Linked DNA regions of Homo sapiens: region 2 is linked to region 1. Evidence: fine-mapped expression QTL. Tissue or cell type: monocytes. Region 1 holds a variant in brackets; the other region holds the start of a gene. All regions are shown on one strand. Distances are between the middles of the regions.

Region 1 (8,228 bases):
GTAGTTTCCACAGGTTCTACACTCACCCTAGAGGAAGCCAGATGTCATATTAAAAGTATTGTCTTAACACTGCCACTTGGAAAAGCCATGTGCCGTTGTCCTAGATGACAGCCCCAACTGAGATCCCAGTCAACTACTGGTACTAACCACCAGAGTGAGGCATCTTGGATATCTAGCCTAGCTGAGCTATCAGATGATTTAAGTCCCAGTTGACATATGACTGCAATGGTAGAAGAAACTCCAAGTGAAAACTTTCCAGCCTAAGCCTTTCCCAAATTTCTGACCCATAAAATTATGTAAAATAAAAAGATTACTTTAAGCCGCTAAGTTTTGTAGTAATAATAACTAGAATATCCAAGGGTCATGGAGCTAAGAGACTTAGTAACAGGACTTGGGCTAGAACCCAACTTTCCCTTCTCACCTAGGGTATTCCTGTGGCCCAAGGTAATCAGATAAGACACTGGATCAAGACAAATATATATACTTGTTGTTAAATTCCATAATATTCTTTGAGTACCATGGATTGCTCCTACATTGTGTCAGAGGCTGTTAAACACAGGGGGTGGCATTAAAAGAGGATACAATGCGTGGGGGAAAAGTTGTCAATTTCACTTCATTCCCATATTCCTGGGAAGAAAAAATCATAACTGCTGGAAAAATGATGGATGTTCAAAGAGTATGTGCAAACATTTAGATAAAGAGTAATCTTTACATGATGTTTTAATTATCATACAGTATAAACATTATCATTTTTTTCATTAAGATAGGAAATTATCATTGTTTTCGTTAAGATAGGAAATGAAACCAAATAAAATTTGTGAAAATGTCAGTCATCTTTGGGAAGGCCTCAAATGAACAAGGGAGAGTCTTGAGCTTGGTATCCTTTCATCTTGGAAGAATTCATAGCTGGGAATTGGCTAAAGCTTTGCAGTGGGTTGAATGATGGTTTCCAATGAGATCTGTCCATGCCTTAGTCTTCAGAACTTGTGAATATGACCTTATTTGGAAAAATGGATTTTACAGGTGTAATTAAGTTAGGAATCTTGAGATGATATCATCCTGGATTACCCAGGTGGGCTCTAAATCACATGAAAAATGTTCTCATAAAAATTTCAGAGAGAGTGAAGCCTGCAGACACCTTCATTTCAGGCTTCTAGCCTCCAGAACTATGAGATAATAAATTTCTGTTGGTTTAAGTCACAAGATTTGGGCAATGCATTACAGCAGCTCTAGGGATCTAATACGAGCTCCTTAAAAGAGAGTTGTAAGAGACCTGGAGGAACAAGGCTGTCCTCTTAGGGTAACAACAGTGACTACAGCACTACGACCACATAGGTAGATGTGGGACAGCAGTCAAACTCATATTAGGAGTTTCTCTGCAAAAGTCAGACATTTTTTGCTGCCAGCTGTTTTATTCCAGAGACAGTACCAATTAGAACATGCTGATCATATGCTGTTGGTTAGTATGTCTGTCTCCTCAGCTGATTTGTGAATTTCTAAAGACCAAGAGCCTTCATTTCTTTCTTCGACAAAACTTAATTGAAAGACTGTTATATTCTCCACTCTTTGCTAGGTGCTAAGATGCTGAGTAACACATAGTTATTGTTTTCAAGATGCCAGCCGACCTTGGGTGATACACCACATTGCATTCAACTAATGTTTGATGGAGGAAATAAATATGGATAGATAAAATGGTTTGGAAGAGTAGACAGTTTTTTACTGACAGAGACCTGGGTTCAAGTTGTGTAAACCTGGATAATTTCCTTAATGGTAAAATGGAAAAAAGTAACACCTACCTTGTAGGGCTTCTAGGATGATTAGCATATATTTAAAATATAGGTCCCATATAAAGTACATAATTTCAAATGCCTGTAATGTTACTAATAAATGAGGAACTAATGTTCCAGCAAAGATTATACCTTGCATCCTTGCATTAATATTTTAGTACGTTTTCCATGTGTTTTTACTTATTTCATTTTTCTCCAGCTTTATAACGTAGGCAGGGCAGGGATGATTCTCACATGGAACAAAAGAACAAGACACTGAATCCATAAAAGAAGAGGATGGTAATGGAGCTAGACAACCCCCTAGATTTCCTGTCTCACAGGGCCCTGTATTTCCCACCACAGCCATGCCATTCACCTGGTTGAGAAAGCCCTTCAAGGATAAAGGGTGGTCTACTCACAATTACAGTTTAAACATGACTCATCTTCCTTAACAGTCAATTTTACCCAAAAATTTGGGGAACAATATATCCTTAAAATACTGCAACAACACAGCTTCACTTTAAAGAATGCAAAAACTGAATTATAATAATGAATACTTATGTGCATCAGTCTCTGTTCTAACCATTTAAAAAACCAGTATTTCATTTAACTCTTACAACTTTCCCAAGTAGATCTCATCATTATCCTCCTTCTACACATTAAGAAACCAGGAAATAAAAACAGTTAAAAGACTTACACAAAGTTACAGTTAGTGGCAGAGCTGGGATTTGAACCCAGGAGATTTGGCTCTAGAGGTTCCAATTTTAACCACTTTGTTATCAATGTTTAGACAATTTATTATGAATATTTTAATGGACCTAGGGTACCAGGGCCACAGTTATTTTATTCTATTGTCTATCATTGTGGGCATAGGTCAGGGGAAGACACAGGAGAATTTCAGAAGCACTGTGCTACACAGGCAGTTTACAGAAATGATTTTTAAGGATCAATTGTGTGTGTGTGTGTGTGTGTGTGTGTGTGTGTGTGTGTAGAGAGAGAGAGAGAGCATGAGAGAGCAAGAGAGCAAGCATTTCACAGTGTGTGCAATTTTAGCTTAATTAGAATAGGAAGACTATTAACAAGTTATTTTTAAATGCACCAAAGATCAGGAGGCGTATTAGAATTAAATTACACCATGTGAGGCTGATTGGCAGCCCATGTAATGTGGGCAAGTTCACAATCTTGTCTTTTATCAGCACAGTTTGCAAAGTAGGCCTGAAAGGCATGGCCCCAAACCCATAGAGGGTGGAGCTATAGTTATTCAAGTAAAAAAAAAGAAACTAGTTGGAAATGTGATAAGCAATGATTAGCTAACCTATTTCAGGAGGAAAATGAACAAAATGAGCAGATGCCGACTGTAGTGGCTTTAGTGAAAAAGGATAGATACACTTGTTTAAATGAAAAGTTCTCTGTCACCTGAAGACAGAATTTCCCTTAGGACCAGACCATTAGTGTGTCATTTGCATAGAGAGCTTAAAACAAAAACAGCCACCACAAATAGAAACTCCTGGGCACAAATATAGACTGCATTCAAAGGATGCTGACTGGTGCAAGGGACTGAGTCCATGCTGAGGGCACTTGGAGACCAATTGCCAGTTGGGAATGTTCCTGACCTTGCAGTAGCAAGAACTAAAATAACCCCAGCAAAACAAAGCGTGGAAGAAGGGAGAGGGGTTAGAAGACCTTGGCTCCTGTTTTGGCTGAAGCTCTTGGGCTGCAGCCCGGAGCCCATGTGCATTTGAGGAATAACTTTTCCTCCCTGGGTTCCCTCATGGGTAACTCCCTCCTCTCCAGTGCTAACTGCATCTGCCTCCTCATTTTGGACTGTTGAATCAAAAACCCTTGAGCTCTCCAGAGGCTCCACGTTGTTACCCCCTAACTCCAGCTTTATCTTGTGTTCAAGGTGGGGGTTTGATCCCTGGAGTCCAACTGCTTCAGTTCAAATTCTCATGCTAATGATTGCGACCCTTAGCTAGACCTTGCTCTCTGCCTCAGTTTCCTCCTCTATAAGATGGAGGTAAGATACTTCGCAGGGTTGTTGAGAGGATTTAAGCAGATAAGGTAAAACAGAGAATAGTGTTTGGCACTTACCAAGTACTCAATAAATGTTAGGAATTAATATGAATTTGCCTCCTTGGGTAGAGCTCCCTAACTTCAATTATTCCTATTAACACCTCCTGTAGTTGTCATGCATGAGTGTCGTCTACTTAATGTATTTTAATAATCAATTCAAGTTTTTAAACTCAGCCATATTTCAAGCAATATTATTTGTGAAAGCCCAGGCTGTGTTAATGATTTTTTTCTAATGTATGTTAATGATCCACTAAAATAAAGGTGGATCTATTTTTATAAAGGTGGCACAATCTTAAATCATCTCAGATACCAGTACACATTTCACACATTAGGAAACACAGTCTACACACATTCACTCATCTTCCAGTTGTTCTCTCAGCAAGCATGTAGACAACACTTACCATGTGAATGGAGAGGAAGTCAGGCAATAGAAATGGAAAAGCACCTTTTCTGCCTCCACTGAGCAGAGACCCAGAGAGAGATGAGAACAATGATCCAGTAGCAGAGCTTTTCTTCATGGGGTAGCCTTTTGGTCCTGCTTGGGCAGGTCAGTTCCCTCAGGAAACAGCAGGAAATAAAGAACCAAGCATGTCAGGTGTTCCAAATTCCAGTTCCAAGACAACTTGGCCCTGCATCCAGATTCTACATGGTGAGACCCTGGGCTTCTTATCTGAGCTCTCTGACCATCTGTTTCCTCATCTGTTAAATGGGCATAGTATGTACCTCACCGAGCTAGTGGAGGATTCAATCCGATGGCATAGCGAGTACTCAGTGAATGAGCGCTCTCCCCCGATTATGTGTTCACACAGGACCCACGTTTCCTGTCCTGCAGACCTGGGGACTGTACCCATTTTCCTCTGTTGTAAATGCTCTCTAGGTTTGTACCTAAAAATCTGCTTCTTTGCCTAAGCAGTCCTTGGCATACTAAACCAACTTAACACTGGCCAGCATGTAGTGAAGGCTTTCCAAAAAGTTCAAGACCCATCTTCAAAAGCCTAATGTGTCTTCTTACCACAATTTTATCTTGTATAGGATGAGGCTTGTAAAATCTCATTTTACACATGATGAAACTGAGGCATGGAGAGGTTAAGTAATTTGCCCAGATCACAAAGCTGGCAAAT[A/G]GAGGAGCAGGTAACCTCTACAGTTAGTAACCACTAAAATTGCTACTAATAAAGACAAGACTATAACTAAGGCCCACAGTAGGACCACATCATCTAGCTCAGTGATTCTCCACTGAGAGGAACTTTGTCTTTCAGGGGACATTTGGCAATGTCTGGAGAAATTTTTGGTTGTCACAGCTGTGGGGTGGGTGCTACTGGCATCTAGTGGGTGGAGGCGAGGGATACTGCTAAACATCCCACAGTGCACAGGACGGCTTCCCTCCCTCCCAACACACAATTATCCAATGCAAAAATAAGTCAGCAGTGCTAAGGTTGAAATACCCTGGTGCAGGCACTATGACATTAACTATTTAGAACCCAGTCGATAACTAAGAAGAAGCTACAGAATCTCTCAGATTCCAAAACAGGTAGCATGAAGTTCAGGCAGAAAATCTCGTGCACTTTGTCACAAGAAATGACCAGGAGACAATTTCCTAAGGCATATTCATCTCACCATTCATGTAAATCAATTAAAAGCACCAAATGGATGTGGTATCTGGGTAGAAAAGGGAAGCATGGAATATGACAAGAGTCAAGAAGAGAGCCAACAGCTTGCTAGTATGAGGAATAGAGAAAATAGAAGAAGCGGTAGAAACACTGGCTGTGAAAATCCCTGCAAGAAACAGCCATGTGGATAGAGGCAGCTCCTGAGACTGTGGGAAGAGGTCTTCTGGGCATTCAGAGGGACATCATGCCAGGACGCCAGCATGGCAGGCAGGCCATGAGCAGCATCTGCTTCATCTCATATTACTGAGCTTCTGTGACTTTTTTTTTTTTTTTTTTTTTTTTTTAAGGACTGTGAGACTGTCAGTTGAGAAAGACAGTATGAAAAAGTTGGAGATTATTTACTTGGTGACGTTTTCTGCATAAATTGCAAAATAACCAAATGAGGCAAATGGATTTAGCTACTAGGAATGGGAACAGGAGGCAGGATGCTCACCTGAGTATTTTGCTTTATTCAATCTAATAAACATTTTATTTATGTAAAAGACAAACAATGCATAGAATAAAAATAAGTGCTTGAGACTTTTGATATAAAAAGAGTATATAGCATTCACATTCCTATTTTAATACATGAGTACAGCTGAAGTGTTCCATAAAAGAATAAAACTTTCCCTTTATGTATAGTAGTGAAAAAAGTCAGTATTTTTAGGAACTACAGAATGTTATTCCTTGGTCTTTTTTCTTGAATAAGAAAAAAAAACATAAACAAAACAAGCCACAGTATCCTCTGACACTACATTCCAGTTTATGCTGATAACCCAGAAGTGAGAATACTCTTGAATCTTGAATATCTCATGAATGGACCAGTATTCTAGAAACTCACCACTAGAGGTCAATGGGCAACAGCTATTGGGATGGTATCAGCATGCCCTACGGTGCAAGTGGAATTTCTAGGCGCCTCTATGCTACTGCAGCCACACTGTCTTTAACTCTCAGCCCACCCACACTGAGGAGGGTGCCTAGAGGTTCTATTTCCAAACCTTTGCATGTATCTTAAAAATCTCAATAAAATGAGACCTTCCACCATCCAAACAGAGCTGATATTCTCACTACCAGTCCCTCTCTAATATTCCTATTTGGCTGAAAATAAGTAGCTTCAAAAAGTTTTAAAAAAGAGATTACTTGCAGCATTAACACTTCTTTGTTGATTAACAAGTTTCCTATGGAGTTTTAAAGCTCATACTTTGTTCTTGTCCTTGTGGACACAAATTTTCTAACTGCAAATGGGACCTTTGTGTCCCACATTCAAATCCTCTCTAGTAATTTCTGCAAAGGTTGAGAAGGCTGGCATGATGGAGAGAACGGTAACCATGAGGAAAGCTTCTTGGAGTAAAGCACTCCTCTCTCCAATGCAGAGGGTAAAACTATTAACATATAAGCAAAAGAAACTTGGGCTAACTGAGACCCTTAAAGGAGTTCCCCTTTAGTCCAATAAAAGGCCAACTTCAAATCTTAACACCAGATAAGGTAGTCAAAATCATATTATATACCCAGAGAATGACTGCTTGAATGGACATTTCTTACAAGGGACCTTGGTTAGGTGCAGATTTAATTCCTAGACTGGGGTCCAGGTAGGCAGTGGAAAGAGCTAATGTTTACAGTGAGAAGTGAGGCAGCTTTGTAAGTGTCTCCACACCTTCACATTTTGTGAACGTGGACTGGAGATAACTGAAAACCATCTGCTATCCTTACCTGGGGATCCAGATTTTCCTGCAAAATCTCCAAATATTTATAAAGTGGCTTCACTTTTTGAAACGCTGTGCTGACCAAACAAAACATATGTTTAGAGTGCCTGAGGTCATAGTCCTGACAATGATAGTATTGTGTAGTTGAAATCCTCTTCATCAGGCCAAACTGTGCTTGAGCAATCAGGAGCCCAGAAAGATGGAACCCATTGGTGTTTGTATAGAAAACTAGAAAATCAAGTCAAGTGTAATGAAAAAGTAAACACGATAAAGCCTAGAGTGAGAATTTGCTCCTTTTTAGAAAAGGATGAAGGCTGGGAGCAGAGAATAGTAACATAAGTGCAGGGGAAAGATGAAAAAAAGAACAATTTTTCATTAGTAGATGGTGGGGCAATCGCATGGATGGGGACATCTGTTCTGATTTTTCTGCAACCCATGAAGGTAAAAAGTGGGGTTCAAAACATTCAAGGTATTAAAGATGGGGTAGAGTTTCTAAACTAGGTTGAGGGAGAGTTTCTAAACTAGCCCCCCAGATTTGGGGCTTGGAGCTTAAATGAAAAGTCCAGGAGAAATAAGGGCACACAGGAACCCCGGGAACACTGGTCCTCAAACAGTGCCACTGTACTTAGTTCCATGGCCAGAAGAGAAGTGCTAGGCAGGGAATGATTATTTTGCAAAAGCAAGTGCAATGTGGTCATAGCTGGCTGTGAGACATGGAGCCTCTTTCCTCATGCAAAGTTCACTGTTTTACAGTCAGAGAACCACTGCATGTGTGATTGTCAAATGCTAATGCTGTCATGGGTCCCTTCCTTCTCTGCTTGGTTCTGGAGTTCTCCAATAAAACCAATTTCCTGGGAATATTTGATGTTTTTCCTTGTCTCTTTTCAAGGTATGGCTATATATATAGAGCTATAGACATATATAGATATATATATATATATATAAAACATAGCTATTCATATTTATATACAGGCATTAATAAAGTGCAAATGTTATTGGCTATTGTAAAAATCAATCTCATTTCCTGAGGAAGTGCTAAC
Region 2 (8,185 bases), 89 kb after region 1:
GAACAGCTGCCTAAATTGCTCACATTGTGTGTATGTGTAGTGACACAAATAGACTGGGAAAATGTGGGCTGTGGTGGGATGTGAAGCAGCAGAGTCAAATGGGAACCAGGTCAGAGGCCCCTGGTAAGCCCAATTAAGGAGTTAATAGTAATAACAGAAGCTGATATTTATTGAGCATTTACTATGTTGCAGGCACCATGTTAAATACTTTAAAACAATATTTTATTTAATCCTCACCATAACTCCATAATCCTCATTTTACAAATGAGACCAGGGATGACTAGTAGGTAAAGCAACTACAACAGGCTACACAGCCAGTACATGGCAAGTGGGTCTGGAACCCAGGACGGCCTGATTCCAAAGTTTATACCCTACACTCTTCTACCACCAGCCTATCCTCAAAGAGAGCACTAAATGAACGCATTGGGTCCATCATGCTGGCTATGGAATGGAGAATGCAATTAAAGGCTGCCCAACTGGGGCTCCGTGACAAGGCAGGGATAGGAAAGAGACAACAAATTGATTCAAAAATACATTCAATGGGACCTAGAAGGAAACATTCAACATGCACATCCTCCTAGTGCATACAACAACAAAAAAAAATGAGGCTTTTGAAAATGAGGTGTAGAAAATAAAACACCAGTATTCCATAATGCTTTCAAATATAAACAGTTAAAACACGTATCCTTTTCTTTACTTATAACATGCTCCCAGCTGTTAAATTCAATGGCAAAGACCAGGTCTGTCTTATTCATCTGAGATGGTATCCCAGGTCTGAGCATCCTGCCTGGCAAGAGATACTCAATAAATATGGTTGAAAAGGTAGAAGAAAAAATGCCCAGTTTTTGCAATGATATCAGAGGTGCCTTATTGATCCAGAGTTAAAAACTAACCTTACTGAAAAAATTAAAAAGTCATGTTCATAACTGAGTAGAAAACATGTAGTAGTTATGTTGACTACATAGACAACAGTCATCATTAGGGAATGCTACATTGAAAAGAAGGCAATGAGTTCAAAATGTGATTAGTATTTTGTATAAATCATAACTCATTAAAAATAAGATGTTGAGTGGCCTAAAGGTGGAAATGTGTTTTTATGAGGCGGAAAAAAAGCACGAGTAGACTGAAGATCAGATTTGGGGCCTAATGATGTCTAGTCTCTTACCCTGACAAAATAAGCAGGTTATTAAAGTGATGTGAAGAACCTGATCACTATGACACTTTTACAAATTCTTTGTCCTCAATAAGAATCTATCTACTTCCAGGAACCTGAAAAGTCATATTTTTCAGACCTGAAGAGTTATTGTGCACTTTACAGTTTTCCCCAAAAGAGTCATTTCTTAATTTTGATCATTTAGGAAGAGTGAATCTATTAAGTCAAAAACGAAGAAAAAAAAACTTTCTATTTCTTAGTGAAATTTGTTCTTTTATTTAAATCCTTTGCATACTACTAAACAGAAGTACAGAAGCTACTAAACAGAAGACAGATTTTTGGGCCTTTTTAGGTGACGTAAAAGGAGCTTGTTGTTTATTAAACAATCTCATTACCTGATATATTATCTTGCATTAAGATATTTTGAAAAAATGTTTTCAGTTTACCAATTACGTTAGAGAAATTCTGAAACTATTTACTTACATGAAAAATTAAAATGTAAGTAGAATTAGGTTTCTCGTCTTCAATATATCTGTCTTCAACCATTGGCCAACTTTGAAAATTTAATTTGAATCAAATGAATACAAATTCAAAATGATTCATTAATTCAACCATTTTGAAACTTCAGTTCTATAAAAATATGAAATCTGTGGGCCTTGTAAAACTGTCTAAATACCCAAATAAAAAGCCACCACGTTTTTAAGCTAATTGTTTAAAAGTGTGTATATTGATGAAATGAAAGTGACTCGTGAACTATTGGGTCTGGAATTTGCAAATCATAAACCTTATCCTTGTAAACAGAACCTAACTAACAACATCAGGGCCTGCTAATTTCCTTCTTTTATAATCTGGAACAAAAGTTGTAATGATTTTTAACATCCACAGAAAATTAAGGGTGCCATTTTAAATATTTATTAGCAAAATGTCACTTAGGTTTTAAAAGTCTGGAGGAAAATGAGAGACAATTGAACATTCTGGTACTGCAATGCAGGAAAAACGCCAAGAACGAAACACTAAGATTTTATTAAAACCATAGGACTCAAATGTGTGTCAAGACTTTTTGCTTGCAATAGTGCCTCTTCCTAATTTGATTAAAAGCTTCCATCTCCATGCCACCTTCAATGTATGCCATAATTTTTAAAAAGTTCCCAATCCACTTCAAACACTCTAAAATTTACAACTGACCGTGATGCGCATTTTTTCTAGACAAACCTAAAGGTAAATCTGCCCATGTCCCTGGATAAATAAAATGAGTGCCTCCGGGTGATGTGGACTGTCAACTCCTCTACATTTCATCCAAAGTCTACATGGGTCATCTCCAAGTCACCAGAAGAGCCAGGGGAAAGGAGGGGAGGGGCACGATACGTAAGATGTTAAACATGAAGATGATGTAAAATTACCCAGATTCAAGCTGGCCATTTTACAGATGAGGAAACTAAGGCCCAGAAAAAGCTCTATGACTTGCCCAAATACTCGGTTACCCAGACCACAGCTGCAGATACTGTTATTTGGATCATAGCTGCAAAAAGTCTAACTTTTGGCCGGGCGCGGTGGCTCACGCCTGTAATCCCAGCACTTTGGGAGGCCAAGGTGGGCGGATCACGAGGTCAAGAGATCGAGACCACCCTGGCCAATATGGTGAAACCCCGTCTCTACTAAAAATACAAAAATTAGCTGGGCGTGGTGGCACGCGCCTGTAATCCCAGCTACTCGGGAGGCTAAGGCAGGAGAATCGCTTGAACCCAGAGGCAAAGTTGCAGTGAGCCGAGATTGCGCCACTGCACTCCAGCCTGGTGACAGAGCGAGACTCCGTCTCCAAAAAAAAAAAATCTAACTTTTGAAGTCTCAGAGGTTTTACACTTTCCATAACAAATAGTTAAGAACCCCCATTCCTGCATGCATATATATATTAATATTATATATATTTATATATATAATTATATATATATTTATATATATATAATATATATATATATTTTTTTATTTTTATTTTTTCCTTAAAAACCTTCAGAGACAGCGATCAGGTGGGTAGCCTAGTTAGGATTTTAACCCTTCGGTTTCCAACAAACGATAATTGCATAGAACCATCAACTCCCTGAAGACAGGACTATCTTGTTCCAGGCAAAATCTACAGCCTCTAGCACCCAGTAGGCATTCAGTGAGGGATTCTCGGTTTCACCTGAGCATCTCCACTCCCTATCCATCCATGCCAAGGCGTCAGTGGAGCCAGCTAACTTTCTTTTGGAAATCGATTATTTTCTTGAAACTTGTTTCCAAAAACTCCGGGCCAAGAAGCCGGCCTGAGGGAAAGCGTGGCCGTCTCCAGGAGCTAAGGACTGAGGAGCTGGCCTTTTGAACGGGTGGCTCAGAAAGAGCTGGGTGGGCACGCGGCATCGCCATGGGCGGAGTGGCCCAGGTGCGCTGGCTGCTTTGGCAGCTCAGGCTGCCGCTCCGGGCCGCTGCTCCCCGGCCGCCTTCAGATAACCAACTTCTCAAACTTCCCTTTCCGGGGGTGGGGGCTCGCCTCGAACGCGGCCAACACAACGCCTTTCCTGCTCGCACAAAGGGGACCAAACGTGCCCCGCGCCCCTTGCAACTGAACTTTCCTTCTCTTTTTCAAGAAAAACTCACAATCCCTGCAGCTACGGGAGTCGGGCTGCGTGAGTGTCGCGGGGGAAACTTTCCTCGTTTCCGCCCGGGGGCCGGGTTGCCGGGCCCGACTGTCAAGCGCAGCGGAGAGGCGGGGACCCCAGGAAGACCCCCGGCGCCCCGCCGAGCCCGGGCTGGGGACCACTCACCCGACTTCTGAACGTGCGGTGGGATCGTGCTGGCGATACGCGTCCACAGGACGATGTGCAGCGGCCACAGGCCCCTGAGCAGCCCCCGACCCATGGCAGACCCCGCTGCTCGTCATAGACCGAGCCCCCAGCGCAGCGGACGGCGCCTTCCCGGACCCCTGGCTGCGCCTCCGCGCCGCGCCCTCTCCGGACCCCGCGCCGGGCCGGCAGCGCAGATGTGCGGGCCAGATGTGGCGCCCGCTCGCCAGCCAGGAGGGGGCCTGGAGGCCGGCGAGGCGCGGGGAGGCCCCCGGCGGCCGAGGGAAGCTGCACAGGAGTCCGGCTCCTGTCCCGAGCGGGTGCACGCGCGGGGGTGTCGTCGCTCCGTGCGCGCGAGTGACTCACTCAACTTCAACTCAGCGCTGCGGGGGAAACAGGAAACTCCTCGCCAACAGCTGGGCAGGACCTCTCTCCGCCCGAGAGCCTTCTCCCTCTCCTCGACGTCCAGCCCCTAGCTCTCTCGTAGCTGCCAATCATGTTTCCTAGACCAGCCCCTCCGAGAGCTTTGGCCGACTTTCAGCTGCCCCTCACCGCCCTCCCACACCACTCAGGAGTTCCTCGCTCCAAGTATTTACTCAAGAATGACTAAGTGCACACAGTTCACAAAGTAACAACAGAAAACGTCCACGTTTTCCCTAGTAGATCAGAACATCTGCCGCCTCCCCTCAGCTTTCTTCAGATTGCTCCTAGGTGCTTTAGAGATGCGTTTTCAAATTGCAAGTTGAGATCCAGGAGTGAATACTCCAATCTATTGAGTCGCGAGCACATTTCTTTCCCAAATAAAATAGTAACGGTAAATTCTACTTCATTAAATTTGTGCTTCAGTTGTGTCTATATGCATGTATGTATGTGCATACACTGTCAAGTTGTAAAATGTTTTTCTTTAGGTCGAAGTCTAGAGGTTTTTCTCAAGTTTTAATGTACATATTGATCACCTGGAAATCTTATTTAAAAATGCAGATTCTAATTCAGTAGGTCTAGGAGGCAGGCAGAGATTCTGCATTTCTAATGAGCACCTGGATAGAGCGTCCCATTTTGCACCGCCTCTTCCCGGGACTGAGTCAGTGAGTAATTGTAAATGATCACCTATCACGAAGTGATAGTGGTGGGAAATGTAATTTTCAGAATGTATAGAGTATAGCAGAAACTGTAAAATTAAAAGTGGGTTGGGAGTCACCTGAATGCTTGTGCTTTTATTCCCTTAATGCAGGTGAAGAAAGAGAATACTTACCCTCTCATGTGCAAACGGGGTAACATGGGAGCAGAACAGTATAAACTTTCAAATTTCCTTTCTTGCTAGGGCAACCAGATTTGCCCAAGACATTCCTGGTGTACATGTTTTGTAGTTTAAATATTAATAGAACCCCCTTTCTCTTTCAGATATGTCCTGATTGGATAATAAACTATGTGATCAACCTACTTCCCACTCTCAAAGATATGATTCTGTACAGCCCTCTGGTCAGTAGATCTTCTAGCAATTCATTTAATGAATTCCTTTACCTGAGAGGAAGATTGCAGAGGCAAGGGTTTGTGCCAGGGTCTCCAGGGAATAAAGGTAAATAGCCCTCCCCCAAACCCAACTCCCAAATCTTTCCTGTCATTCTAAGTGTTCATTTGCTTCATCCTGGAATTTTAACTCATGCTCCACCTAGCACCCAAGCTGCCTCTGGATGTTTTGCCACTTCCCAGTACTCATGTTGAAGATGCAGAAAGTGCAGTGAAATCAGGAGGGCTAGGCATCTTCTTTCCCACCAATTAATTGCCTTGCCAAAGCTGGAGTGACTTTGTCAATGGAGGAAGATTGAGTTCCAAATCTTCTCCCTATTCCCTCTTCTGCCACCAGCCCATGCCACTGCCATGGCTTGTGTAGGAGTCTCCCACGAGTCACCCTCAGCCACGGCCGTTCTGGGCTCTTTCACTCAGTTTCTCAAACGAGAGCTGAATTCAGCTTTTCAAAATACAAAACTAGTTATACCAACCCTCTGATTAAAATCATTTAATGGCTTCCCACTGCTCTTGAGATAAAGAGAAGATAAAAACCAGATCCTTGAACGTGTCTTCAAGCCTCCAACTCTCCCGTAAACTTTCATTTGGCTTCTCCTTGCTTACTGAAAGCCTTCTCCAAATTTCGTGAATATGCCTCTGTAATCCTCCTACCCTTTATGCTTAGAGCCTTCCCCAGTGTGGACTTCCTTCCTCTGACCTTTTTTTCTTCACCCAGCCAACTCCTGGTCTTCGTGGATTGAATCATAACTTCTTTGATGGGCAAGCTTTCCCTCACCTCCATGAGTAGATCTTGTATTACACGTTCTCTTGGCACCATATGCTTTTCTTTTAACAGCTGTAACTTTATAATTATTTGTGTCATTCTTTAATTTATATTTCTATCCTCCACTCAACTCCAAATTTCTTGAGGGCAGGTATTATGTATCTTTCCCTCCACTTACTATTGTGTCCCTAAGCATCAAACACATAATCGATGTTTAATAAATATTTGTTGGATGAATGAATGAATCAGGCAATAAAGATTTAGAAGAAAATTGTATTTGATTGTTCTAGTTGCTTCATAACTCTGGAGAAAACATTGTTACCGAATATTTGAGATATAAACAGACTACATTTTAGCCGAGAATGATGTCACCACTACTTCCTTTTCTTAAGAATGGAGAAGTATGTGGGTTTCTTTCTTCTTCTTTTTTTTTTCCTACATTTGCCCAAGTTCCTCCAGATAGCAAACATGTACTTTCTTTCTCCTGAAAACACAATGTGGCAAATAAATGTCCAATAGATTCCAAAAGCTTTGTTTTCCTTAATTATCACAAAGATGTTTTACATTGTTGGAGGCTAGATATTTAAATCTATGGTGGAATGTTTAACTGGTGGTCTTTGCCATGATACATCATTAATGTTGATTTTAATTTTGTTTGCCCTTAACATTTCTGATTTAATCTCCAGTCTCCTGTGAAATTGAGAAGAATCAGAATTCAGCATTGCCAAGTGCAAGCTAGCCTTTTGAAAATCATCATAATAAAAATAATAGATGTGTAAACTCATGCATATTGCAATTTGATAATTTTAAAAATTCATCAGGCTGAGTGCAGTGGTCCACACCTGTAATCCCAGCACTTTGGGAGGTCTAGATGGGAGGATTACTTGAGCCCAGGAGTTCGAGACCAGCCTAAGCAACATAGTGAGATTTCATCTTTACTAAAAAAAAAAAAAAAAAAAAAAAAGCCAGGCATGTTGGCATGTATCTATAGTGCCAACTACTCAGGAGGCTGAGGTGGGAGAATCACTTGAGCCCAGGAGACGAACGCTGCAGTGAGCCATGATTGTGCCACTGCACTTCAGCCTAGAAGACAGAATGAGACCCTGTCTCAAAAACAAAAAATAAATAAAAGAAAAAGAAAAAAAAATTGTCATGATGCCCTTCCTTTTGAAATTCTTGTTGAAAGGGATGTCTGATACCCTTAATCAAGACATCATTTTCACACATAGTTGTATATTTGGCTTAGTATAATATTTTGTGTATTCACATAAGCAGTTAATATATACATGTAAAAAACTGGGCCATTTGCAAATGGGAACAAAAAAATAATAGCCCGACTCAGGGTTTAAAAAACAAGGAAGGTAACGTTTAAGCCCTTAATGAGTTGAAAAACAATAAATATCAACTTGAACAGAAATTTTAAAAGCTGACAATCTATTTTACCAGCTTTTTAAACTCTGCACGCACACACAAACACACACAATTGAACTGAATCAAATTGTGGTTTATTTAAACGTTGGGTTTCTCAGTTGTGATGAGAGAAGAACTTCCTACTCCCCTGAGCTTTGTGACATGCAGCTGTTGAGGTTACTGTCAGCTAGAGCAGTTAACAGGGAGATTCCTCTCCTTATAAATTAACCAGCCTCATTCTCAGCTCTTATCTCTTGACCAATTTTCCTTTTATTGTGAAGCAAACCAATAAGCACTGAGACTGTAGTTAATTTGTGAGGGTCATCCACCCTTTGTGGGTCATCCATGATGCTACCTCCTCCAGGAAATATTTTGTGATGCTTCACCTACTGTGATCACTCCTTTCCCAGGGATAACCCAGGGAACATTTCGTTTATTTAGCCTTTTTTTAAAAAAAAATGTTTGCCCCATTCTAACATGGAGTACATTATTGTTATTTATTTGCTTTTTAGAATT

Evidence for each region. PIP is the estimated chance that this variant, and not a neighbour inherited with it, causes the effect.
Region 2: it holds the start of TGFBR2, and the variant in region 1 is fine-mapped to the expression of TGFBR2 in monocytes (TOPMed, PIP above 0.99).

What each region holds. Positions count from the first base shown.
Region 1 is chr3:30,691,814-30,700,041 of GRCh38, reverse strand. TGFBR2 (transforming growth factor beta receptor 2) reads right to left here. Exons shown (of 7, transcript NM_003242.6): 7 at 5,900-8,228. Among named protein-coding and RNA genes, the nearest start is that of TGFBR2, 89 kb to the right of the region's middle. The variant A/G (reference allele first, on the strand shown) is at 4,961.
Region 2 is chr3:30,602,744-30,610,928 of GRCh38, reverse strand. It overlaps TGFBR2 (transforming growth factor beta receptor 2), which reads right to left and starts at 4,328. Exons shown (of 7, transcript NM_003242.6): 1 at 3,952-4,328. The coding sequence starts at 4,045. LOC105377015 (translation initiation factor IF-2-like) reads left to right here and starts at 4,005. Exons shown (of 2, transcript XM_047449400.1): 1 at 4,005-4,783; 2 at 5,371-6,530. The coding sequence starts at 4,005. The coding sequence ends at 4,445. RefSeq lists a silencer at 4,155-4,254.